5 separate regions of the Homo sapiens genome follow, and regions 1, 3, 4 and 5 are each reported to be linked to region 2. The links are microRNA targets in miRTarBase. Many come from high-throughput screens and were not tested one by one. Region 2 holds a microRNA gene; each other region holds the end of a gene's coding sequence.

Region 1 (5,106 bases), not on the chromosome of region 2:
AGGCCAGACGCGATGGCTCACACCTGTAATCCCAGCACTTTGGGAGGCCGAGGCAGCTAGATCACGAGGTCAGGAGATTGAGACCATCCTGGCTAACATGGTGAAACCCTGTCTCCACTAAAACTGCAAAAAATTAGCCAGGTGTGGTGGCAGGCGCCTGTAGTCCCAGCTACTCGGGAGGCTGACGCAGGAGAATGGCATGAACCCAGGAGATGGAGCTTACAGCGAGCCGAGATCGCGCCACTGCACTCCAGCCTGGGTGACAAAGTGAGACTCTGTCTCAAAAAATAAAAATAAAAACAAAAATAAGTATTTCACAAATTTTCAAATATATCCAAAATGTGAAATGATTATGTTTTACATTTTTTACTTTTTTTTTTTTTTTTTTTTTTTTTTTGAGACAGTCTCATTCTGTCGCCCAGGCTGGAGTGCAGTGGCACAATCTTGGTTCACTGCAACCTCCGCCTCCCGGGTTCAAGCGATTCTCCTGCCTTAGCCTTCCGAGTAGCTGGGACTACAGGCGCGCGCTACTACACCCGGCTAATTTTTATATTTTTAGTAGAGACAGGGTTTCACCATGTTTGCCAGGCTGGTCTTGAACTCCTGTCCTCAGGTGATCCACCCACCTTGGCCTCCCAAAGTGCTGGGATTACAGGCGTGAGCCACTGAGCCCGGCCCATTTTTTACTTTTATCTGCTATAAAATTTGAATTTTGTTATGACATAGCCTATCTTAGTTGATGAATATATTAACCACTTTCAGGTTGGAATTTTTTTTTTTTTATTACCTCTTCCAGGCATATAGCCACATGCTATCATCAGTGGAAAAGCTACATTCCTGACTGCTCTCATTTTGAATTAGAATTTGAAGTCTAATATAAATAAGTGGGTTACTTTTCATATTTCTGATTCCTAAGGCTGGCTGAGATTAATTTACCTTCAAATTTAAAAATATACCTACTATAAAAATTTTAATTAAACTCTTTGTAACTATTTTATAGTAGAACATCAACATTTTCTGGATAGGTAAAAGCTTTTATATTACATTTTTATTTTGCAAGAAAATAAATTATACAACTTAAAAAATAAAATCCAAAAATTAAGCAGTTCATCAAAATATTTCAGCCTACTGCATACAGAAACTGCTACCACTTAAAATTGTACAGCATTATCATCTCAGTATGTAGTGGCACACATTCAAAATCGTATAGACCATATGAGGATAGATTACAACTTAGAAACTAAAATAAATTTGTTCAACACTCCAGACAACATATAGTGTAGATGACAGGAAAGCTCTCATGTAATGTTTATTTCACAAACATGACCTTGGAAGAATTCATAAGACAGCATCCCAGTCACTTACATGAGAACAGAAAAACCAGCTTGAGTTTAAGATAGCAAATCTTTCTGTAAAACTAGCAAATCTTTCACCCAGACTGAAGTTTTAAAATTTGCCCTTTGAGCAGTGCTAGAGACATCTTACTGCAAATAATGCAAAATACTTTTTAACTACTCAGGTCATATTTTCTATTAAATTTAATAAAAAGTAAAAGAAAGAAAGCTAACATTTCATTTTTGGAAGGTTTAACATTTATGCACAAAATAAGAGCAAGAGACTTAAATAAAAAAGTTGACAGAACTCAGGGACCCCTCCAATAAATGTAAAAATTGGAAGACTTCAGAATTTATTTCAAGATCCTCATTTAATCATTGGAATAGTAATATTCTAATATTTATCTCATTGTGACCATCAAAATTTTTCTATATTTTTACTTCTTAAACTCTGTCTTATGTCTACTTACTCCGGCAACGAGATGGCAACACAAGTTAACATTTTCCAGATGGGATGTCTCTGTCTTTAAACTAGAAGATGGGTATTCAGAGGTTAAGATAGCCTCTGAAGTGTCTTATTGCCATACCACTAATTTTTAAAAATTAAATTTTTTTTTTTTTTTTGGAGGGGGAGGCTGGATTTTCTTTTCACTTAACTGCAGGTTATATCCCTGCTCGGCACCAATTTTAAGTGTACGCTGGAGAGAAGAGACCTGAATAAAGGATGCCAACTGTGATTCCAGACCTTTACAAACTGCTGGTAAGATTTTTTTTTTCATTTTTTTTTAAATTAGCAAATCTGTTGTTAAATTACTTAAAGAAAATTTAACAATGGCATAGGCACCTTGTCAACTAAATGATTTTCATAAACACCAAAAAGTAGTTAAAACTTTTGTATACATAACCAAAAAAAAAAAAAAAAGAAAACTGTACATTTACAGTATTTGCTGCTGTTCATTCCCCAAAATACAATTAGGACATAATTGGCTATTAAAAATTTATAAAATTTAATAAAAAACTTTGCTATGAATGTAGTGTTACCCACTTTTGCATTAAATTCACCTTCATAAATCAAAACATCATGACTCTCATTCTTAAATTAAATGACCCAAAATTAGAAGTTCCAAAAAAGTTCTGAGAACAATTATGGTTTAAAACAACAAACCTAAATTTTTAAAATGGACGGCAATTTTTCCTGTTTCCTCCTTTGGCATTCTTGTATTGGGACAAGCAAATACGCCAATGCTGAATTATCTGTTAAACATAAGGGCCACAATTACTACAAAATTATTTCTTCTAAATTCCAAATATACCCATTATGAACAGTCACCTAATTAGAGAAAACTGTACGTATTAATTTTAGTTTAATTCTTCACAATATGCTCGGTCTAATAATTGACATTTGCTACCTTAAAGTGTAAAATTTTAAACAAAATTCCAATTTCCTATAAGTTTCAGAACAGGCATTTGGCTATACTCAGCAAAACTCTAAATGTTTTAAAGTTGCTTTCCTTCCATTCAGCAGGCAGTTCACAAAGCCTCTTCGGATGGGGACAGATCCTACGAAATGCTCTTGAAAGCACTCCACTGTAACATAATACTGTATGCCTTTCTGTACTCCATTTCCTACTATCTTCAAAAACCATACTTTAAAAATATTACTTAACATCAAATAAGATATAAAATAATTTGCAAGAAAATTTGAAACGTGCACCACAATGAATAAAAATCCACGTTGAGCCATTCTTTCCTCAAGGGGAATCAATTTTCTCTTTCAAGTTGTTCACGTCCTCAAGTCCTAAAATTTCCACTACTCTGGGTATTCAGTTGCCAGCAACTAGTTAAGTTGCTACTTTGGATAGACTGAAAGGAACATGGTAAATGTTGCCTTCTGACGATTTAAAAAATGTTTATTTTTAAAATATATAAATATATATGTACATATATTTGGCAAGTTTACTGCTCGTATTAAGAGTGCAACAATTTTGCTTCTGTTTTTCAGGTCTTATGTTGTGGTTTTTCTCTTACCCCTAGGTGACTGATTCAAACCTGAGGCTACAAATCCCTAATCATGAGACCTTAAAATACCAAAATACTTCTATGCTACAGATTAAGAGATCAGTTACATAACTATATCAGAGCAGGAGATTTCTGTGTTGTTTTTAATAAATTCAGATATGGCATAATAAATATTAGGTATATAAACATTAAGTGTGTTAGTAAACACACAATATGTTTAGTAAACACACTTAATATGTTTGTTTTGCTATTTTGGCTCTGCAATCATAATGACCTACCTATCTCCATAAATTTTTTAAACTATTGAAGCAACAATTAATATAAGCTTCATTTTTCAAAACAAGCTTTCCAGCCATATTTAAAAAAAAAAAAACTCCTCATCATTTAACAACAACTAAAATAGCAGTCTCCTGCTTAAAGAAAACCAACATTTGAAAGTTGAAAATATTTAATACCATTTTTAGGTCACCATTAAAATCCAGTTATTATACTGAGCAATGTTTGAACAATTTGATACTATTAAATACTTAACTTCTCACCTACATCTGCCGTTTCCCAATGTTGCATTGACCAGCTCACTCTTTTCATCAAAAGAAACCAAGAGTGCTATTTCTAGTTTTAATTGCATTTTTTAAAAACAAAAGATAACAGCATTTTTCAGTGCATGAATATCTGAAGATCCTTCCTTGTGCAAGTACATTTTTTAAGAGAGGAAAAAAGAGAAAAAAGCAACAAGAACCCCACCCTCACCCTTCCCAACTGTATTTCTCCTGGTGGGTACAAATCAAATTCACTTTTAAAAGTTGATAATGGGCTCTTCATGAATGCAAGTTTCTCCACAAAACAGCATGCTGTCAAAGAGTGTGCAACATGAAGGGAATGCCATCATGCTAACTAATGTGATTGGCAAAATATAGTTGTTTTTGTAAGGTAAGGCAGAGATTTTAATATTTATGTAATCAAAGTCCAAATAAACCTTTCTCCAGCACAAACTTTACAACTTTCTGCCCAAGCACTCCAAAATTTGGGTTCTAAATATTGTCCATGATATTCAAAATTATGCCATATATATGAAAGTGTTGATATCAGATTCATCTCTTCTGATGTATTTGTGCTCTATTAGCCACTCTATTTGCTCTTTTATCATTTTCTTTTGTGGCAAGAACATGTTTTTCAAAATTTCTACTAATTCAGTCTGCAGCTGAGCATTACTAATTTTCTTTCTCATTTTCATTATTTGTATGATAGCTTCCTAAAAGAAAAAATAAAAATAAAAGCGCATTAATATACGAAATTATTTTAAGTACAACAAACTGAAAAATGACTTTTTATGCATATTCATCCTCTATCCAACATCTACCCAAATGAATAATAATCACTAGGGGATTAATGTTGAGACTAGTATCTTTTACTTAACAAATAAAAACATCTTTTGTTTTCTCATGCCCCATAAAAGAGAATCTGCTTATTGGGGTGGGGGGATAGGGGAGGGATAAGCATTAGGAGAAACACCTCATGTAGATGACGGGTTGATGGGTGCAGCAAATGACCATGACACGTGTATACCCATGTAACAAACCTGCACATTCTGCATATGTATCCCAGAACTTAAAGTATGTATTTAAAAAAAATCTGACTATAGAGATTTTGAAAAATAAGGAAAAGCAAAATTACCTCTGCTTCTCTGCTGAAAGAAAACTACACCTAATGTTTTAATATTATTTCCTTCAATTCCTTTTTTCCCATGCCATTC
Region 2 (5,106 bases):
TGGACGCCCTTCATGCATCAGCACCTCCATGGCCCTCGGGAGCACACGCAGAGGAGCCAGGGCCTGGCCTGAGTGTTGGGAAGGGAAGGGAGTTTTCTGGGCTGAGGTCAGCAGCGGTGGGGCTCAGAGAGAAGGTCCTTTTCTTGTGCTGGAATTCTGGACTCCCCGTTTTGGGCACTCACCGAGGGCCCTGTCGAGGAGCCCTGGTCTTCTGGGGTCACCCTCAATGCCCTGAGTCAGTCCCAGGCTCTTGAGCCATCCCTTGGAGCTGGTGCCACGGGGGGAAGGGCAGCTGGGGCCGGAAGCCACCTGCCCAGGGCATGAGAGAGGGTCCCCAGCCCTCCCGCGGGCCCACCCCCTTCTGTTTCCTGTCAGTCTGTCCTCCCCAGGGAGGGAGGGAGGGAGGGCGCTCATCCCCTGCGGGCGGGGGCGGGGCGCGCTCTGAGACCGTTGGGCGCCCTGAGATCTGGCCCACGTGGCCTCGGGGTTATAAGCCCTGCCCTCCCTGAAGGGAACCCCACTTCGGAGCCTGGAGCACAGGGCGAGCTCTCCTCCGCCCTGCAGCCTCAGGTAAGGATCCGGACCTTCACTGCTGCCCCAACTGGGGCTCCTCAGCTCGGGGCCTCTAGGGGCTTGGGCTGCTGGTCTGGGTGGAGGCGCGTTGGGGGTGTCGAGGAGCTTGGGTGCAAGCCCCATGCGGGAAGCTCAGGGCAAAGCGCCTTGAAACCCTCTCTAGTGAAGGAAGGTAAAATGGCTCCGGGACCCCAGGCGGGGAAAGAGGTGTCCAAGGAGGAGGGCTGGAGAGTAAGGCGGGGATGGCAGAGGGTACGCAGAGGCTGAGAAGTGGGACCAGTGTCTCAAGGGGCGCCAGCCTCTTCCTCCGCCCAACATGGCCACCATTTTTGTTGGGATAGCCTTGGGCTCCTGCCAGGGGAACAGCAGGGCAGTGAGGGAGTCAGGACTTTGGGCTGGTGGGGAGGCCGAGAATCAAGGCTCTGGGGAGTCAGGACTTTGGGGCTGGTGGAGTGGCTGGGGACTGAGGCCCTGGGGGGTCAGGACCTTGGGCTGCTATGGAGGCTGGGACTGAGGCTCTGGGGGAGTCAGGACCTTGAGCTGGTGGGGAGGCTGGGAATTGAGGCCCTGGTGTGTTCAAGACCTTGGGCTGGTGGGGAGGCCAGGGCCTGAGGCCCTGGGGGGTCAGGACCCTGGGCTGTTGGGGAGGCTGGGGACTTAGGCCCTGGGGGGTCAGGATCTTGGGCTGGTGGGGAGGCTGAAGGGTGGGGACTGAGGCTCTGGGCAGTCAGGACCTCACGGTTGGGGTGGACTGGAGACCAAGACCTTGGCAGGGGAGCTGTGGCTGCCTCATTTGGACGCTGGAGGGTGGCTAGCGTGGCTGGAAGCGGCCAGCCAGGGGTTCACAGAACTGAAGGTGAGGCCTCCAGAGGCCCTAGTCTCTACCTGAGTGTCTCTGAAACTGGGGGGATGGGGTGGAGCCTTTAGGGGGAAGGGAAGAGGGAACTGAAGAGGAAGTGGGGGAGGGAGGTAGAGGAGGCAAGTCTGGCGCCATGCTGAGTCACCGCCCACAAGGCCCAGGGCGGGCCCTCGGGGGGCCCTGGCAGGGTTGGGGGGATCTTAGGAAGCCACAAGGAGGGCTGGGGGGCTCTTGGAGCAGGAGTCAGGAGGCCTGGGCAGCCTGAAGAGTACACGCCGACGGACAGACAGACAGTGCAGTCACCCATAAAGTAGAAAGCACTACTAACAGCACTGGAGGGTGTAGTGTTTCCTACTTTATGGATGAGTGTACTGTGGGCTTCGGAGATCACGCCACTGCTGCCGCCCGCTGCCCGCCACCATCTTCCTCGGCGCTCGGGGACCTCGTGTGACAGGTGAGCACCTTACGGCCCCTCCCTACCCTGCCCAGATGCCTGAAAGGCCTCCATGGCTTTCCTGCCCTTCCTGGTTCCGGACAGCTGGGGAAAGGCCACAGCAGCTCCTCTGCTGCCCTGCAGTCTTTGGGGGCGGGGAGGGCTGGACATGTGGAACCCTGATGCAGCCGCAGCGTCAAGGACGAGGAAGGGGTGGGAAGGGATGGTACGTGGAGGGGAATGGGTGGTGGGACCAGGGACCCAATGCTAATAAAGACTGGACTGTGCTTCTCTTTTGTCTGAGACTCTGTTGCTGGGGTGGGGAGCTGAATGCGGGCGGCAGGCACATGGACAGTATGGGCGCACAGAAGGGCTGGGAGGGAGAACCTCTGTCGCTCCTCCAGAAGATACGGGTTTGGCCCTGCCTATGAGATCAGAAGAGGGCTCTGGGCCTGGCCAGGCCACAGCCGGAGGAGAGAAGGGCCTGGGCCATCTGCAGAAAGGGGCAGGGATGTAAGGCATCCTCTCACCTTCTACCCTAGCTCTGGCCCTATCCTGCCCCCCTACATACCCAAACTGAAAGCTGCCTACATCCAGTTTTAATCTAAGAAAGTCTAGGGGGTCCTAGGTCATATAAAAATTGGGCAAAATCCACTGTGGCACATACACAGCATCTTAGACAAGGGCACAGACACTCATATACAAAGCACACACTGAGATGCAAATGCATTTACACACAGAGGCCCCATTCAGTGTGCCAGTAACACACACACAGACACATGTGACATGACTGGCATGACACACACAGGGATTACACACACCCAGGGCACATACATATTCAGTAGTACACACATGCAATGATAGAAACATAGGGCGTGTCTTACACATAGAAGAGCACACACATACAGTGACATTTGCATAATAAACACGGTGGCTCCATACACATACATAGATAGAGACATGTTCATATATCATGATAAATATAGAATACATAGATACATGGTGATATATATATATAAATCAAACCATGTCATTATGCATATTTACATGACGATATGAGCATGTCATATATTGTGTAATCAATTACTACATTGTGCCATATAGTAGCATCCATATCTATATATATCATGATGTGTTGTAATTTATAAACTCATGCAATGATAGCCTCCCATGCACATAACAGCACACACATAGACACAGTGGCAAACAAACATAGATGCAATGACACAGAAACATACATACAGATACACCCAATGTGTTTTTGTTACGTTTTATTATGTGACTCATAGACACATAATAGCACACACATATATACACACAATGGCCCCTTCACATATACAGAAATAGATAATGTCTATTCTATAGATGCATACTATACACACGCATGCGCATAATGGCATGCATATATACTCTGACCTAAACAGCAACACATCATGCAGTGGCGTGCGTGTTGACCTACACACTGCTTTAGGGAAGTGAAGATGTCCACTCCTCCCCATGCACCCCCTACCTCCAGTTCCATTGGCTCTTGCCTGGGTGGAGCCCACAGTCAGGGGCTCTAGGGTTCAGTATCACCGCTGCTATTCTGTGGGGGTGCCACACGAGGGCCCCCGACCTTGGCTGAAACTGGCTTGCCTAATGAGTCCCGGGTTCAGAGTGGAGAGGGGCTGCCTCTCGGGGCTTCTCCCAACACCCCTGGCTCTGGGGACTCTGTCTAGACCCCTGCCACTGCATATAGACTGACTCCTGGCTGAGGGGATTCTCACGTCCTTGTCCCCCAAATTATTTAGCAACAAGATCTAAGGCTAGACAGAAGATGAACTTCCAGGCAATTCGGGACAAAGCCAACCCAACAGGCCATGTGGGCTTCCCTGGTGGCCTGGGACAGCCAGGTTGCCCCCCAAGTGCAATCTGCCAGGAGGAAGCAGAAGGAATTCTCCGTCTATTTCTACCTGTCTCTTTGCTTGTCTTCCCGGTTTCTTTCTCTTGGTTTCTGTCTCTCTCTTTGTTTCATCTCAAGTCCCATCTTTTCTAGTTCTGCCCTTCTCTGTGGCTGGATCTCTGTCATACCCTCCCCCGTTCTGTCTCTATCAGTCTCACCCGATGTAGGGAGGACCATCTGCACCCCACTCGCCTCTGTACTCCGGAAGGTGTGAGAATGTGTGAAGATGAGGGTGGGAGGCCACATGTGGGAGCCCTGGGCTGACATGCCGTGAGAAACCTGCTCTTCCTTCTGTCCCCGACCCTGTCAGCCGGTTCAGCCCACCAGTCCAGCGCCATCACCATGGAAACCAGCAGCCGACTTCCTATTGGTGGGTGGGAGGGGAGGAGGAGGAGGAGGAGGGGAGGGCTGGCTCTTCCCGGCTCACCCCCCCACCCAATTCTGAGGCTCAGCCCTCCTCGGAGCCCACCATCTCGAGGCTCCTGGACTGTAAGGGACCCCTGCAGTCCCCAGAGCAGAGGCCAGCAGGGGCTGAGACTATGAGGCAAGCAGCCCATCGACCCAGGCCTCCTTAGGACCAGCCCAGCCACCCAGCAAGCGAAAGAGCAGCAGCAGAGAGCAGAGCCGGAGATAAAGGACCACAGCGGACCACTGGGGATCACCCCCAGCAGCTCCTGAAGCCTCTGGCCGGGCTGAGGGGTTGCGACAGACGGCCAGACCCACAGACACTGACAGACACACAACGACACCGATGCACACAGCTGCACGACACTGACACACTCAGATACAACCAGGGACAGCATCACATACTGCCACAGCCCTGCAATACAGACACCCACACACACACACACAAACAACTGGCAACTCTGAAATGGGCAGACAGTGACACACAGCACCACCCCCCTCAACACACAGAAGTGGGGGCACCCATCTTCCCAACACATGAGACAGCATTGACCTGCACGGACAGACCTGGAGACACACACACGCACCCTCACCCAGGCGCAGCTGTCGGTGGCCTCTGCACATCCTCCCTACCCCCACAGGGACACCCTCGCTCCTCCACATACTCGCGCACACACACAGCTACCAGCAAACATAGCTCACATACCCCTGGCTCCAGCTCCAGCAGCCCTGGCGCCTTCTGCAGCCTCCTTTGTGGGTGGGGAAGAGCTCAGCCAACCTTGGATGGAGCGTCGGTGAAGCAAGAGCTCAGAGGGGAGAGGGGCTGGCCTGGCATGACCCTCGCCAGTCCCCCCACCTGGCTGGGTGATGTCCCCCGGCCCGGGTTCTGGGGCC
Region 3 (5,106 bases), not on the chromosome of region 2:
GGGAAATTTCAGAGTGACACTACCAAGAAGCGTTTCCTGCCACGTAAAATCATCTCTACTTAAGAGGTCCTATAATTTAGTCATTCAAGGCTGATTTCAGCATTTACGTAATAGAATCAAACTAGGAACAGAATCAACGCCCATCAGTTGGCCAATATCACCTGAGAATTGGTCCACTAGTCAGTGTTTGAGGTTGCACGTTGGCATCAGTTGAAAGATGTACAAACTGCCAGTGGTGGGACCTCATCTCTACTAACCAAAAACTTTATAATAAAGCACAACTTTTAGGGAAGAGAATTAAGTGAATACCATTGTCATTTTTTTCTTCCTCTGCAGCTCTAAGTAAAATAACAAAACAGATACTGCCTTTGCAACTAACTGCCTAAGTACTCTTAGGAACTTAAGTTTCTGGTTTATTAATTCCCAAACACTGTACATCTAAGCATAGTTTTAAAAAAATCAGTTAATGAACAGAACCAAAGTCCTAGGGCAGTTTGTGAGTTCCTTTGAAGTTACACACAAATTTTAAGGTACTTTTTGAGACACAGCCTCCTTCTCTCGCCCAGGCTGGAGTGCAGTGGTGAGATCTCGGCTAACCGCAACTTCCGCCTCCCAGGTTCTAAGCGACTCTGCTGCCTCAGCATCCGGAGTAGCTGGGATTACAGGCGTGCACCACCACACCCGGCGTATTTTGTATTTTGTATTTTGATTTTTTGAGACGGAGTCTTGCTCTGTCAACCAGGCTGGAGTGCAGTGGCGTGATCTCAGCTCACTGCAACCTCTGCCTCCTGGTTTCAAGGGATTCTCCTACCTCAGCCTCCCAAGTAGCTGAGACTACAGGCATACACCACCACACCCGGCTAATTTTTGTATTTTTATTAGAAACGGGGTTTCACTGTGTTAGCCAGGCTGGTCTCGAACTCCTGACCTTGTGATCTGCCCGCCTTGGCCTCCCAAAGTGCTGGGATTACAGGCATGAGCCACCACACCCGGCCCGTATTTTCCACTTTTTAGTAGACATGGGGTTTCAGCATGTTGGCCAGGCTGGTCTCAAACTCCTGACCTCAGGTGACCTACTGGCCTCGGACTCCCAAAGTGCTGGGATTACAGATGTGAGCCACTGCACCTAGTGGGGTACTTTTTTTTAGACAGGATGGTAGCTTTCATCAGATTACTAAAAAGTGGGCCCAGAACTCAAAACAACCATTGCCTTAGAGGAACTGAGGAACTAAATCAGAGTTAGGAGATAAAAACAGGGCAATATTAAAATGAACACTTTATATTAAAAGTTTAAGATTGATGATATACTCGCCCATGTATAGAATTTAATTGCAAATTGAACATTAAAAACAGGCAAAAGATTTTAATACATGGAAAGGTGAAATCATTCCAGTAAGTACAAAAACTGGATGGAGGATGCTTATTAAGCTGTATTAAAAATTTTTTTAAATTATACTTTAAGTTCAGATACATGTGCAGAACGTGCCGGTTTGTTACCTAGATATACATGTACCTTGGTGGTGAGCTGCACCCATCAACCTGTCATCTACATTAGGTATTTCTCCTAATATTATCCCTCCCCTAGTCCCCCACCCCACAACAGGCCCCGGCGTGTGATGTTCGTGTCCAAATGTTCTCATGTTTCAAGAAATGTGAGATGTCTTTCATAGCCACTTGTTTTCCCAGTTTCTTAGGAAGCCACTCTCCAAATAAATCATGCATATATATAGCAATAACTAGCACAATTTACATGTTCTCACACCTACCATAATTTTCCTCAAAAGCAAACATATTTAAAAATCGTAAGAAGGGACTGGAGTGGTGGCTCACACCTGTAATCACAGCGCTTTGGGAGGCTGAGGTGGGTGGATCACTTGAGGCCAGGAGTTCAAGACCAGCCTGGGCAACATGGCGAAATCCCAACCCTACCAAAAATACAAATTAGCCGGGTGTGCTAGCATGCACCTGTGGTCCCAGCTACTTAGGAGGCCAAGTTCGGAGGATCACTTGAGCCAGGGAAGTGGAGGCTGCAGTGAGCAGAGATTGCACCACTGCACTCCAGTCTGGGTGACAGAGCCAGGCCCGTCTCAAAACAAAAACAAACTAAAAACCCACAAGAAATCAAATGTAGTGACGATCATCGAACTGTCAATCGAGGTGATAGTTCTTTCACCTCCATGTGAAGTAATTTAAATTCTTTCCACATTTTACTTAAAATAGTCAGATAAAACATTTCACATGGAACCATATCCAAAGTAGTAGCTCCATAATTTAGGTATGCTAAAAGTAGATTTTCAACACAAGACAAATTTAGTGGCTTTCATATTATACAATAGGTTTTTCTAACTTCTGGGTGTCTATAGCACTAATTCACTTGATGCTCAATTTAAAAGACAAAGGAATTTTCTTAAAAAAGAAAAAAGCATATCATTTTTAGAAGAATTCATTTAATGAGATTTTTCTAAAATGGAGTGGTACATATGTTAAGCCCACATATGGAGGACTCTTGCAAGTGTACTCGTTTGCTCCATTTAACATTTTTGCAAGGTGGCTTCTGAGTGCGCATTAGTTGGCCAGTATAACCAGTGAGATAAAACAAACCTCAATGTGCGTGCCAGGTTCACTACACTGTCAGAATACTGAGTTTTAGCCCTAGCACTGACATCATTACTTTGGGCCTCTATTTTCTTTTCTAAAAAGAATTGGGTGAATTATCTTAAAGAATTTCAAGTCCAAATTTTAAAAAATGCTAACATATTGTCCAAGTAAAAGGTATCCCAATAAACGTCTTTGACATGGAACAAAGTAATCAAATGACACATGTAACAACCACTGACAAAGGGAACTGCCATTATCAAGTATTCTAATAAAGATTATTGATTACCACATGCCCAATCCCAGTCTATGCATTTCTCCAAAATTCACTTGTCATCTGGGCACTAAGACATCCCTGTACACAAAGTGTGACTCTACTGACGTTTCATCAATTTCCACAATATAAATATGCTAAAAAAATTTAACAAATGGGGGAAAAGCCAAGACCCAGGATAAAGGATTTAATCCAGTATTTATTCCACACTCATGATGGTTCTGTAATCAGAATACAAGTTGTAAGAACAATCTATCAAATAATTTGCTGATAGTCTTAAATAATGCAGCACAGCATTACTTTTAATACTCCTCTGTTCTAGATTAAGTTTAAAAACTCAAACAGCAATCTCCATTATCAATAAAAAAAGTTCTGAATTTTAAAAAAAGGACACTATATCAAGCTGTTTCATAATTTAAGGATTTTCCATTTATAAAAATGCTTTGGAAGCTTGAGGCTTGAATCTGTTTCTCTACTCATCTGCCCCACCCTCTCCCCATTACATGTTAGTATAGGGTTCTGCAAGAATGCTAGGCTTTAGACATTAATTTTTTTCTTTAATATAGTACTTTAAAATCTGAGAAAGAATTCAAGAAAAAAAGATTACATGTCATGTATTTTTTCAAATAAAAAAGGAAAACTAAGTGAATAAATTTTAGGCATACTAAGTGTCCCTTTGAGGTAGAATGCTAAAAGGACTTTTGATGAAATCACAGCCTAAAAACCTCTGCATCAGAAACTAACTTCTCATAAATTCTCTCTAAAGGTAACTGTGGAGAATATTAAGTGTAACATATTAACAAGAGCCTTCCAAGATAATATACAGTAGACAAGAATGTTAATCCTACAATGCTGCCTTCTTGTACATTGGCAGCACATACTTCTCCTATAATAGACATCCAAGATCCATTCTCAAAGTCTTTAGCATTCTATTACGAAAAGCACAGCCATGCTAACTTCAGTACACAAACCATAATCCCACACCTACAAAACAAAAATAGATTAGTGGCAGTTTATTGCCTTATACAAATTTAACCAACATGGCAACCATGCCAAAGGAATTAAAACATTTTCAGGACATATGTACAGACTGTACATTTCAAAAACAAACAATAAAAATGCAAGAACAATCTGTGCATCATGTATCAAACTTAACAATTGGGTGAAAACACCAATGCAATAAATGGAATTACAAAGGCACTTCCCTACACGAAAGAGGAAATGAAAATGCAGCCTACAGGGAGAGCTTGAGGAGTGCGAACTACTGCACAATCTCAACGTGGGGGAAAAAAGCAGATTTAATCATTTATAGGATTCAATGTGATCCACTTTTACAAAATATTTTCACACAGTCTCATCTTTGTTTTTATGCTGTTTTTCTTGGCTCTCTTGTTCTATACTTTGGCTCCTTCGACGATCATGTTTGTCTGACTGGTCCTTACTATCACTGTGATCTCGTTTGTGGGAACGTTCTTTGCTTCTACTACGCTTTCTAGATTTTTCTTTGCTGGGACTATGTTCCCGTTTTTTTGATTTTTCAACACTGTCAGTTCTTCCTTGACTGCCACTTCGACTTCGTTTATTTGATTTTTCTTTACTTTCATTTTTATGTTTACTTGATTTCTCTTTGCTTCTACTTCTACTTCGTTTCCCTGCATTTCTACTTCGACTCCTACTTCTGTGTTTCCTTTCTCTGCTTCTGCTTCTACTGTGTTTTTTCTCTTTCTTGGAATCTCTTTTGTCATCTCTGTGCCGCCTATCATCTTTGTCTTCTTTATGTTTCTTCTCTTCTACCTCTCCCCTACTTCTCTGTTCCTTGGACCTTTCTCTTGATCGCTCTCTCTCTTTTTCTCGTTCATTTCCTCTTTCCTTATCATAGTCACGATCTCGTCTTCTACCTCTCTCATTTTCTTTCTCTCTTTCTCGATCCCTGTCCCTTCTATCCCCTTTCCTATCACGACTTCGACTGCGACTTCTATGCCTTTCCCTACTTCTGCTGCGCCTGCGTTCTAACCCCCGGTCAATACTTCGGGATCTTCGCCGTTCTTTCTCCCTTTCTTTGGCTTCACGCTCTAGTCGCTGGCGTTCTTTCTCTCTTTCTAATTCTCTGTCAAAACTAGAAGACCCATGGCCCTCCCGATGATGACTTCTACTTCTTGACCTTCTTGGGGACCTCCGTGGACTCAGAGATCTCCTTGGAGACCTAAGGAAGGCGGAGGGAGAAAGAAAATTTCAAT
Region 4 (5,089 bases), not on the chromosome of region 2:
CTCTGGGGATATTCTGAATCAGATTATGCTAGTAGCAACTTTTGAGAAACTGCTGTCCTGAAAATGACTGATGGAATAGGAGCAAAATTTTAAAATCTCACTTATCACTCTGACAGTAATGATAAAGGAGACATAGCTGCATCTGAATTAGTCCTACAAATGAGGGGAAATGGTCCTCAATAAAGGTTAAAAACAGGGCATGTAAGAAAGCTGTAATAGTACTAGTAATTAGTGCCCTCTAAAGCTTTCTCCGAGGAAGTCTAATGAGAGTAGTTCAGGTTCTTCTTTACAGGTATCATAGTTGTAACAATTCCTAAGATTGGGAAGGTGGCATGAAATCCACGGAGGCCCAGGGCAATAAACAGGGCATCAAAGAGTAAAGGGAAGGCCTTTGCAGGCCCAAAGCCTTCCTGCTGTCTCTGTAGCTCCCAAAGGCCTCACCTGGTCTCAGGTCACTTCAGATGGGTCCTCCCTCCAGAAAGAGTGAGGTAAATTCTAGTAAAATTACCCGATTCTAGCCTGTTAGTGCAGCACATTACTTACTTTTTATTAAATCATAGGCTTAAGAGCTTCTCATCATCTAAAGAAACTACCTTAAGCTAGACACGTGTGTATTGAGAGACAGACAACTTTTAACATACATCTGCTAATTTAGGATGTCCAACAAATCTTAGTTTTTTTTTTTTTTTTTGAGACGGAGTCTTGCTTTGTTGCCTCAGCTGGAGTGCAGTGGCATGATCTCAGCTCACTGCACTCCACCTCTCGGGTTCAAGCTATTCTCCTGCCTCAGCCTCCTGAGTAGCTAGGATTACAGGTACGCACCACCATGCTCAGTTATTTTTGTATTTTTAGTAGAGACTGGGTTTTACCATGTTGGTCAGGCTGGTCTCGAGCTCCTAACCTTAAGGGATCAGCCCACCTCGGCCTCCTAAAGTGTTGGGATTACAGGCATGAGCCACTGTGCCTGACTGTCAGTTGTCACTGAGTATTGAGGCTACACTGGGGTTCCAGTAAACTACAGCCCATAGGCGCATGGCCTGCAAAGCCTAAAACATTTACTATCTAGCTCTTTATAGAAAAAGTTCACCAACTTCCAGACTACACTGCAGTATCCCAACTTGAGAGAGGCATATATACATATATACATACATATATATATATATATAAAATGTATACTGAATTGTTCTCAAGAAAATAAGTCACCCAAAGAAGGTATTATGTATGGCTTTTCATTCATTATACCTTTTAAAACATCTTATGTCCCCAGTACCACACTCAGGCCACACCAAATATAAAGGGTTACAAATATTCAGATTTTATTATAAATAAAATACTGTTTTTCTTAAAACATAAAAATGCCAAGTGTTGCATTTTATTAACCACCCCGGAGAGCAAGGCTGTAGAGATTAAGGCAAACAGCTAAAGTGAAGGCACATATAAAAGGTCCACAGTTGGAATTCAAAGGAAAAAAATTCAGGGAAAAATAGCAGTATAATAATCCCTGTGTCAACCAGCATTCTGCAGCAGCCATCCTGTCAATTACATTACATAAAATACAGATAACTGGAGCTAGACAATAAAATAATGGCTGTGTTGCGGGAGTGTAATTAAGGTATCATCTTGTAAAGAACCTTTTATTTTAAAAAATAAAATTCTGCTTAAAAAATATACCACACAGGTGGAGGAGAAAAGCAAATAACAAAAAGAAAGTTAAAAGGAAACCAAACCAAACCACCCCATTGTGGCCTGAGACTTGCTGGAGTGAACTTCACCCAAACTAGCTTGGCAGTCAATCTTCAGTCCTCTTCTGCAACCTTGACCAAATGCATATGTTAGGATGTAGCCACTTAATGAAATGAACTAGCCAGGAAACAATGACGTGAAAACTTTGCAACAGCACGCCACATCTCCTGCCATAGTAGAAGAGGCCTGGGAGAAGCAGCAGAGTGAAAGCTCAGGAGTATATCGTCAAAACACTTGTGGTAAACTCTGGTATATCCCAAGCAGATGGAAACAGGAAGTGGGATCATCAAGAACTAAGTTACACCACCTCTCCCAGTCTACCCATCAGTAAGTAGCACTGTTCCTGATGCCCTAAGTGCTCAGTCAAAATGTACTCCCTTATAAAACTTACCTATCCAGCTCCAACAATTGCCAGAAAGGGCATTTCTCCCTCATTCCTGGCTAGTCCCACTGTGGCGTCAAAGATCCTCTTCAGCAAACTTTCCTAATCCTACCATAGCTTGTCAACCTGGCGTTCCTGCTCTGGAACATTGTAAAACCACCGTGCTGCAGGTTAGGATCATCAGGACTGCAATGGAAGAGGACCCAAGTTACCTCTTTACAGTGGCTGGGTGTGGAGGAAAGCAATTATATTAATTTTAGAGAATGGAGATGCTGCAAACACAAGGCACAATTCTTTGGAGTACAATCCAAAGAATTCTAGAAGGGAGGGAAGGAGGTATTCAGATACATTGTGCCAGTGAAGAGGAAAAATTGAGCAAAGTGAACAGAGTGTCATTCTAGAAATAGGACTAAGTATATTTACATAAATTCCTTATTCTATAATCATGATAAACAAAACACAAAACATTCACACAAAAATATAAATTTGAAATAATTAATAGCACCAGTGTGTCAGATAATAGTTTCTTTCCCCCCACCCCGCCCCTGCTACGCAAAGTACAAAGTTGCATAGTGTTAAAGGCTATATATGAATCTCAAAGGTGGGTTGGTAGGAGGAAGGGGGTGTGTGGCAGGGAACTGTCACACTGTGGTCTTAAAACCACAGAGCTGAGGATCAAAAGTTGAGAAGCCCACTAGGAAACTCCACGTAAGGGTCTTCCCTCTACACTTAGAGGGAAGGTTTAGAGTGGATTTAAATCACAAAGTGCAGGAACTCGATAGCGTTGGCAGCTGTGTGAAATACTGAGTGCAAGTATTTGCCACCAGGATTTGGCAAACAATGTTTTTTGAGGGATTCTGGAAGATGGAAACATCAGAAGAAAACTGGAGCTAAGGGTCAAATGTCTCATCTCTCCAACAGAAGAACAAATGGATACACGGGATTCTGACAGTACAAGCTGCCATCTAAGTTTTATCCCTTTGCTAGAAAAGACTAGGACGAGGAGGCTTGTTTTTCTTCTGTTTTGTCAAGACCTTAGGGATTAACTGTTCTCTGCCAGATACTTAACACTAGTTCCAAGACTAACTAATAAAAAAGCTGTAAGAATTAGTTTGATTTTGAAAACAAAATTTTAGTGGTTATCATATCCCTATTTCTTCTGTGTAAGTTCCATTTATAAGAATATCAAAAGATGTCTTTTGGTCTATTGGTGAGTGCAAGCTGCCCATCCAGATTTAAATTATCAGCTGCCCAAAGATCTGAAAAAAAGTTCATCTTCCTAGTCAATTATTAATATACTAGAAAAATCTTCAGCCATGTTCACCTGGAGACTTTTATAAATAATTGCATCCTGACCCACGGATGGCTCAGTGTCCTACACTCATAATAACTAAAAGCACTGATGGATGGCTACCGACATTCTAAATGACCAATACCTTTGGCACAGGATGTTTATTTCCTTTTGCTTAGAAGGAAGAGGGGTAGGAGATGCAGATGCATTTTCTTTATCCATGGACTGGATATACTGGCCATCACAATGCTACTGTTAGTAGCCAAACTTTTCCTTCATAGAAACAAGAGTACTGAGACTGAGGAGGTTCTGCTGGTATCGATGAGACAGGGGAGGGCTACTTGCTCTACCCCAGCATACATGGGCTCACACGATGTGCTTATGCCACTGTACAGTAACGTAGGATGCCACGTCCTCACGCAAATCAGAAGGGAAAGTGTGGGTAAGGTAGCAACGTGAATGGAAGAGACACTTTATTAGATAAAACCCTTTGTTCCCGATTCAGGATGTTTAATTTGCTTCTCTTTAAACTCTGTGACTTTTCCTGGTTCAAAAGGACAGTCATGGACAGCAGCAGAGGAGTGGGGGTCTGAAAAATGTAATCTTTGTGTCAAGGCACTCTGTGGCCTCACAACTGCCCCCCTGTCAGAGGGATGCTGCCTTCCAGCCCTAAAGACACTAGGGCTTTTCAATGGACGGGGTGTTGAAGCAGCCAGATGGTAAGGTCTTCCTGATGTCCTCCAGATTGCGAATGTCCTTCATGATCTCCTCGATATCTCGGTTATAGTCCATGATGGCAGCCTCCTGCTTCTTGGCTTCATTCTCCAGGTCAGACACTTTCCTATCAAGATCGCTGACCTTCATTTCATCTTTGGCTTTGTTTAGGGTGCCTTCAATCTCGTTTAGCTTATTCAGGTCCACTGTATCCAGCTGCCCTGGAGGGTCAGAAAGTACATAGAAGAGAACAGACATATTCAGTAAGAATGATCCCTTCACAAGTACCTGCACTAGACTCTAGGCCCAGCAGCTGCCATTCTGCACAGGCAGCCCGGCAAATGTGACTTGCAGATTGTTGATGTCACACAATGGTATAAAATATGCAAACCAAGTACAAATGCTGACCTAACCCAGCAGGGATGGGTCTGAGCATACAATTAATATAGAGCTGGATGTTTCTTTCTGAGACAATGGTTTTTGCAGAATGTTTCCTCAATGCACAGCTACCATGTTCTAGACCTTTGAGGGCCATCTGATAACATTTAATACCTTTTCCAGGTGTATACATGTAAACTCTATGTCATTTTAGTGCCATCAAAGATACACAAATCTCTAAGAACCCTAATCCCTCAGCTCTTAGAGAGATTCCAGGGAAGATGGGTCAGTTTTGAAGGTCACTTTCTGCTTTCAGGAGTTAGACACTATTAGGAGCCTTCCTATGGAAAATGGCCAGGAGTAAAATGCTGAAATAATTTCAGCAAGTCTTCACTTTAAGCTTAGCAAGAAAAAGAGGTTCTTTTGAAAGAAATGAGATGTTTCCATAACAAACAAAAGCAGACACAATAGACAGCATTTCATGCATACTTGACTTGATTAAAGTCTCACAAGACCATTTTACATCAGTGATTCTCAGATGTTAAATAATTTGCCCAAGTTTGCACAGCCTATAGGCAACA
Region 5 (5,106 bases), not on the chromosome of region 2:
GTGAAGAATGTGGCAAAGGCTTTAGTACGTTCTCAATCCTTACTAAACATAAGATAATTCATACTGGAGAGAAACGCTACAAATGTGAAGAATGTGGCAAAGCCTTCAGCTGGTCCTCGATCCTTACTGAACATAAGATAATTCATACTGGAGAGAAACCCTACAAATGTGAAGAATGTGGCAAAGCCTTCAGCAGATCCTCAAGCCTTACTAGACACAAGAGAATTCATACTGGAGAGAAACCCTACAAATGTGAAGAATGTGGCAAAGCTTTTAAGTCATCCTCAACTGTTAGTTATCATAAGAAAATTCATACTGGAGAGAATCCCTAAAAATGTGAAGAATGTGGTAAATCCTTCAGCTGATTCTCAGTCTAGTAAACATAAGAAAATTCATACTGGAGAGAAAATCTACAAAGGTGAAGAATGTGGCAAAGCTTTTAAACAGTCCTCAATCTTTATTACACATAAGAAAATTCATGCTGGAGAGAAACACTACAAACGTGAAGAATGTGACAAAGGCTTCAACCGGTCCTCAAACCTTGTGGAACATAAGAGAATTCATACTGGAGAGAAACCCTACAAATGCGAAGAATGTGATAAAGACTTCAACTGTTCCTCACACCTTACTACTCATAAAAGAATTCATACTGGAGGAAAAGCCCTACAAATGTGAAAAACGTGGCAAAGCTTTTCATTAGTTCTCAACCCTTACTGAACATAAGGGAATTTATACAGGAGGGAAACCCTACAAATGTGAAGAATGTGGCAAGCCTTTTAGCTGTTCCTCAATCCTTACTAAACATTCATGTAATTCATACTGGAGGGAATTCCTATAATTGTGTGGAATGTGGCAAAGCCTTTAACCAGTCCTTAAGGCTTACTACATATAAGACAACTCATACTGGAGAGAAACCATGCATGTGTGAAGAATGTGGGAAAGCCTCTAACAGATCCTCAATTCTTAAGAAACATAGGCTAATTCATACATGAGAGACTCTACAAACCTGAAAGATGTGACAATGCTTTTGGCAACACCTCAGACTTTTCTGAATATAAAAGAAATCATATGAATGAGAAATCCTAGAAATGTGAAGAATGTGACAAAGCCTTTAAATGGCTGTCACACTTGATTGTAGGTAAGATAATATACTGGAGAAAACTACTAGAATAAACAATGTGGCACACATTTAACCAATACTCATGCCTTATTGCAAAGGAAAGCATTTATATACTAGCCTGGGCAACAGAGAGACTGGGAAAAAAAAATTGTGAATGCCACTAATATCTTCTCACATCTTATTCAACACCAGAGAGTTCATATTAAATAAAGTATTAAAAGTACAATTATTGTCACTAGATCTTTCAGAAAATAAAAGCCCTTAAAATACAGAAGAATATTTATTTTGAGGAAAAACATTACAAATATAAAGAGGGTTGTAGTGCCTTTACTTGTATCACAGATTTTATTGTACACATTTTGTACTACAGGAAAACCTTAGGTAGTTGTTCCAACTTTGCTAAACATCAGGGAATTTATATTGAATGACCGTGCAAATTTAATAAATTTGGAAAAACATTTTTACAAAAACTACAGAATTATAAAACACAAAAGAGTTTATACTAAAATATATTTTTGCAGATACAGTAAATATAAAAATATTTAATCCAAAATTGTTTATGTAAATATAGATAATTCACAGTAGAAATACCTATCTCTCAAACTTCAGACATTACACTAAATCAGACTGCTGAGTATAGGAAAAAATCCAAAACTAAAGTTGTTAAAAAGAAAAATTATTTGTATATGACTTTGAAAGAAGTAGACCTTTGAAGAGTTACATTTACATTTAAAGTATACTTTTATCTTAAAAATACCGATTTTTTTTTTTTTTTTTTTTTTTTGCCAGACACAGTGGCTTACACCTGTAAGGCCAATACTTTGTGATGCCAAGATGGGCAGATCACCTGAGGTCAGGAGTTCAAGACCAGCCTGGCCAACAAGGTGGAACCCCATGTCTACTAAAAATAAATACAAAAATTAGCCAAACATGGTGGTGCACACCTGTAGTCCCAGCTACTTGGGAGGCTGAGGCATGAGAATCACTTGAACCTGGGAGCCAGAGGTTTCAGTGAGCTGAGATTTTGCCACTGCACTGAAGCCCGGGTGATAATGAGATTGTCTCAAAAGAAAAAAAAAAGCTTATTTGGAAACTGAATAATGACGGAATTCAACTCTTAAATTGCTTCATGCTATTTCTTAATTTCTCTTGTATTCCCATATAAAAGCATGTGATCAATTCTTTCTGCATCAAAGATTTGGGAGACTTTTTACATGGTCATTATGACATTTCTTATGGATGACTAAGGACATTAAAATGTAAGATGCACGATGAAAATCTAAGTAGGAAGGCTATTTGTGATTAACTTATAGAATTGAGTGATGTATGAGGTAGGCATTCAGAGTTTTTTTTTTTTTTTTTTTTGAGAGGGAATCTCACTCTGTTTCCCAGGCTGGAGTGCAGTGGTATGATCTCAGCTCACTGTAAGCTCCTCCTCCCAGGTTCAAGATATTCTCCTGTCTCAGCCTCCCAAGAAGCTGAGATTACAGGTGCCCACAACCACATCCAGCTAATTTTTGTATTTTAGTAAAACAAGGTTTTGCCATGTTGGCCAGGCTGTTCTTGAACTTTTGACCTCATGTGATCTGTCTGCCTTGGCCTCCCAAAGTGCTGTGATAATAGGTGTGAGCCACTGCACCTGGCTCTAAGTGATGTACTAATGTAGTATTATGAGAGAATATTATGAGAGAATAACATATTTTATAGTTAAAATTAATTAAATTAGTATGTCATTTTATTAATTGTACTTTTATGTGATAAAATTGCATTTTTAAAGTTTTAGATTATGTGTTAATTTTTTATTTCAACATTTATAACATGTTAAATACTGTTATACATTCAATAAAGTGTTATTATGCCACTAGTTTTAACCTATTCCACCTTACTTAAGGGTATATTTAAAAGATGGTAACAATACACTATTTGGTAACATAATAGACTAACATCTCTAGTATTCTTTTTCAGTGGCTTTAAACTGCAAATAAGTTAAAGAATATGGTTCCTGCAGGTTAAATTTTTTTTACATTTAAATTTTTCTTAGTTTTTGTGTGTACATAATATGTGTATACATTTATGCCATAGATGGCATATTTTGATACAGTCATACAATATATAATAATCACATTGTGATAAATAAGGTACCTATAACCTCTGGCTTTTATGTTTTGTATTACAAACCAATTCTACAGTCTTAGTTATTCTAAATTGTACAATTAAATTGTTATTGACTACATGGTTATTTTTATGGTCATCATAAAAATTGTAAATAAGTGTAAATAAAATCAATATATTTCTGAGTCCTGAATAATTTTCAAAAATTTATTATGTATTTTTTGCACATGTGGCCTCTGCCTGAAAGCACATAATCGAGTTTTAGTTTTGACTTACATAGAGTTAAATATACACATCTATTAGTCTAAAGATATAACTTAGGTTTAAGGAGTAAGTGTGTTTGTTTGACTGTAAGTTTGTAACTATTTTCAGGAGAAAAGAGGAATATTGAAACCACAAAGCATTTAATAAGATGTCTAATTTACTAGGAAACAAAAATCCTCAAAAATGCTAAAAGCAAATGTAGGCTGGGCGCGGTGGCTCACGCCTGTAATCCCAGCACTTTGGGAGGCTGAGGCGGGCGGATCACGAGGTCAGGAGATCGAGACCCCTGACCTCTACTAAACCCCGTCTCTACTAAAAATACAAAAATTAAAAAAATAAAATAAAAGCAAATGTATACTCTCTGCTTTGTATTCAATTTATACACCTATCTTATAGCTTATCATTTAGAATATTTCCATGTAAATTTTGTTTTTACTTGCATGATACTCATGCTAGACCCATAATCTTTTTGTTTCTTATTTTTTTGTTTTATAGTTTATGAAGTATTTAATCTGAGCTGATTTGTAGTTAAAAGAATAATTTTTGTAAAATTTCATCATGCAAACAAAATTATTTTTAGATATAATTCCACAATTTGTGTATTGTTACATTTTATTTAGTTAAAACATTCCATTAGCTTCTATGGGAGAACCATATATAGGCTTACTTTAGTTATTGTTCCCTTAACTTTTTATAAGTAACAAAAGTAAATTTTATTTATTGAGTCAATTTGTTTCAGTAAGTACTAGGGAAGCTTCATAAGTCATGTGGATGCTTTTATATATAAATGTAGCAAACAAACATGACAGTGCTCAGTGTGTAACAGATGCTTTATAATTAGTCATAAATATTCCTGCTGAAGTTTGTAACTTCAAGTCAGAGATGGAAAATACAAATTGTGAAGAAATAACATTGATTCTTCATGTGAGCAGAACATCTTTTTCCAGGCTGCAAAGCTGAATCTTGCTGAATTTAAAGAGAAATGCTTCATTCACGTCTTAATTATCTAAGTTTTGTCTTTTTAAGTGCACTCAAACCATATATGCATCACAGTCCTTTTTCTGTGTTATGGCTACAGTTTTCTCACTGTTGTTTTCATGCCATGCGATTTCACATGGTATGTTGTAGGTTTTAAGGAGAACATCGGTATTTTTTAATGCACTGAAACATTGGTTTTAACTGGAAAGTTTGCTTATCAGTATAACTTTAAGATTGGTTAATTAACATAAAAGACATACACTGTCTACCGAAGAGAGGATTAAATCAACATGGTGTTTCTTTGTAAAAGAAAAATATTAGATTTTTATACATAGTGTGGCAAATACATAATTTGCTAGACCATATGTATATTATAAAGATTCAATTTTTAAGAGAATAGTAAGTAAGCAATTTTAAATTTAGTTATTTAGGATGTACTTAGAGCACAACCTACATTTCCATGCAAAATTGTCTATTTTAAAGTGAATGTTAAAGGTTGCAAAACAATAAAATAACCTGTAAATTTGGAATAATATTTATTTTCCATATTGATACTACAATTTGGAGAAATGTATCGCTCACTTTTTAAATAAAAATTTTAGTGGCTGAAGTTTAGTCTACAGTTTATATTG

Evidence for each region. The annotated mature microRNA hsa-miR-142-3p reads UGUAGUGUUUCCUACUUUAUGGA and lies in region 2 at 1,773-1,795, shown strand. An mRNA with a match to its seed (bases 2 to 7 or 8) in the 3' UTR can be bound and repressed. Matches are read on the target gene's strand: a 7mer-m8 pairs with bases 2 to 8, a 7mer-A1 pairs with bases 2 to 7 and ends in A, and an 8mer does both.
Region 1: the mRNA of CUL5 is a reported target of hsa-miR-142-3p. Seed matches in the 3' UTR shown: 8mer at 2,365-2,372 and 7mer-A1 at 1,182-1,188.
Region 3: the mRNA of PRPF38B is a reported target of hsa-miR-142-3p. Seed matches in the 3' UTR shown: 7mer-A1 at 2,127-2,133.
Region 4: miRTarBase lists LAMC1 as a target of hsa-miR-142-3p. The part of its 3' UTR that is shown has no 7-base or 8-base seed match.
Region 5: the mRNA of ZNF676 is a reported target of hsa-miR-142-3p. Seed matches in the 3' UTR shown: 8mer at 492-499.

What each region holds. Positions count from the first base shown.
Region 1 is chr11:108,103,689-108,108,794 of GRCh38, reverse strand. It overlaps CUL5 (cullin 5), which reads right to left. Exons shown (of 19, transcript NM_003478.6): 19 at 1,034-4,605. The coding sequence ends at 4,411. Among named protein-coding and RNA genes, the nearest start is that of ACAT1, 15 kb to the left of the region's middle.
Region 2 is chr17:58,327,934-58,333,039 of GRCh38, reverse strand. It overlaps MIR142 (microRNA 142), which reads left to right and starts at 1,722; the gene lies at 1,722-1,808. It overlaps TSPOAP1 (TSPO associated protein 1), which reads left to right and starts at 4,245. Exons shown (of 32, transcript NM_004758.4): 1 at 4,245-5,106. TSPOAP1-AS1 (TSPOAP1, SUPT4H1 and RNF43 antisense RNA 1) reads right to left here. Exons shown (of 5, transcript NR_038410.1): 2 at 4,919-4,990. MIR142HG (MIR142 host genes) reads left to right here and starts at 520. Exons shown (of 1, transcript NR_186557.1): 1 at 520-2,152. RefSeq lists enhancers at 53-122, 623-692, 1,493-1,632, 3,423-3,502, 3,603-3,772 and 1 more and silencers at 203-512, 5,083-5,106.
Region 3 is chr1:108,699,128-108,704,233 of GRCh38, reverse strand. It overlaps PRPF38B (pre-mRNA processing factor 38B), which reads right to left. Exons shown (of 6, transcript NM_018061.4): 6 at 1,306-5,072. The coding sequence ends at 4,214. Among named protein-coding and RNA genes, the nearest start is that of PRPF38B, 9.4 kb to the right of the region's middle. RefSeq lists an enhancer at 632-721.
Region 4 is chr1:183,141,796-183,146,884 of GRCh38, reverse strand. LAMC1 (laminin subunit gamma 1) reads right to left here. Exons shown (of 28, transcript NM_002293.4): 28 at 1,293-4,351. The coding sequence ends at 4,095. Among named protein-coding and RNA genes, the nearest start is that of LAMC1-AS1, 3.1 kb to the right of the region's middle.
Region 5 is chr19:22,175,176-22,180,281 of GRCh38, reverse strand. ZNF676 (zinc finger protein 676) reads left to right here. Exons shown (of 3, transcript NM_001001411.3): 3 at 1-1,193. The coding sequence ends at 332. It also overlaps the pseudogene VN1R85P. Among named protein-coding and RNA genes, the nearest start is that of ZNF676, 19 kb to the left of the region's middle.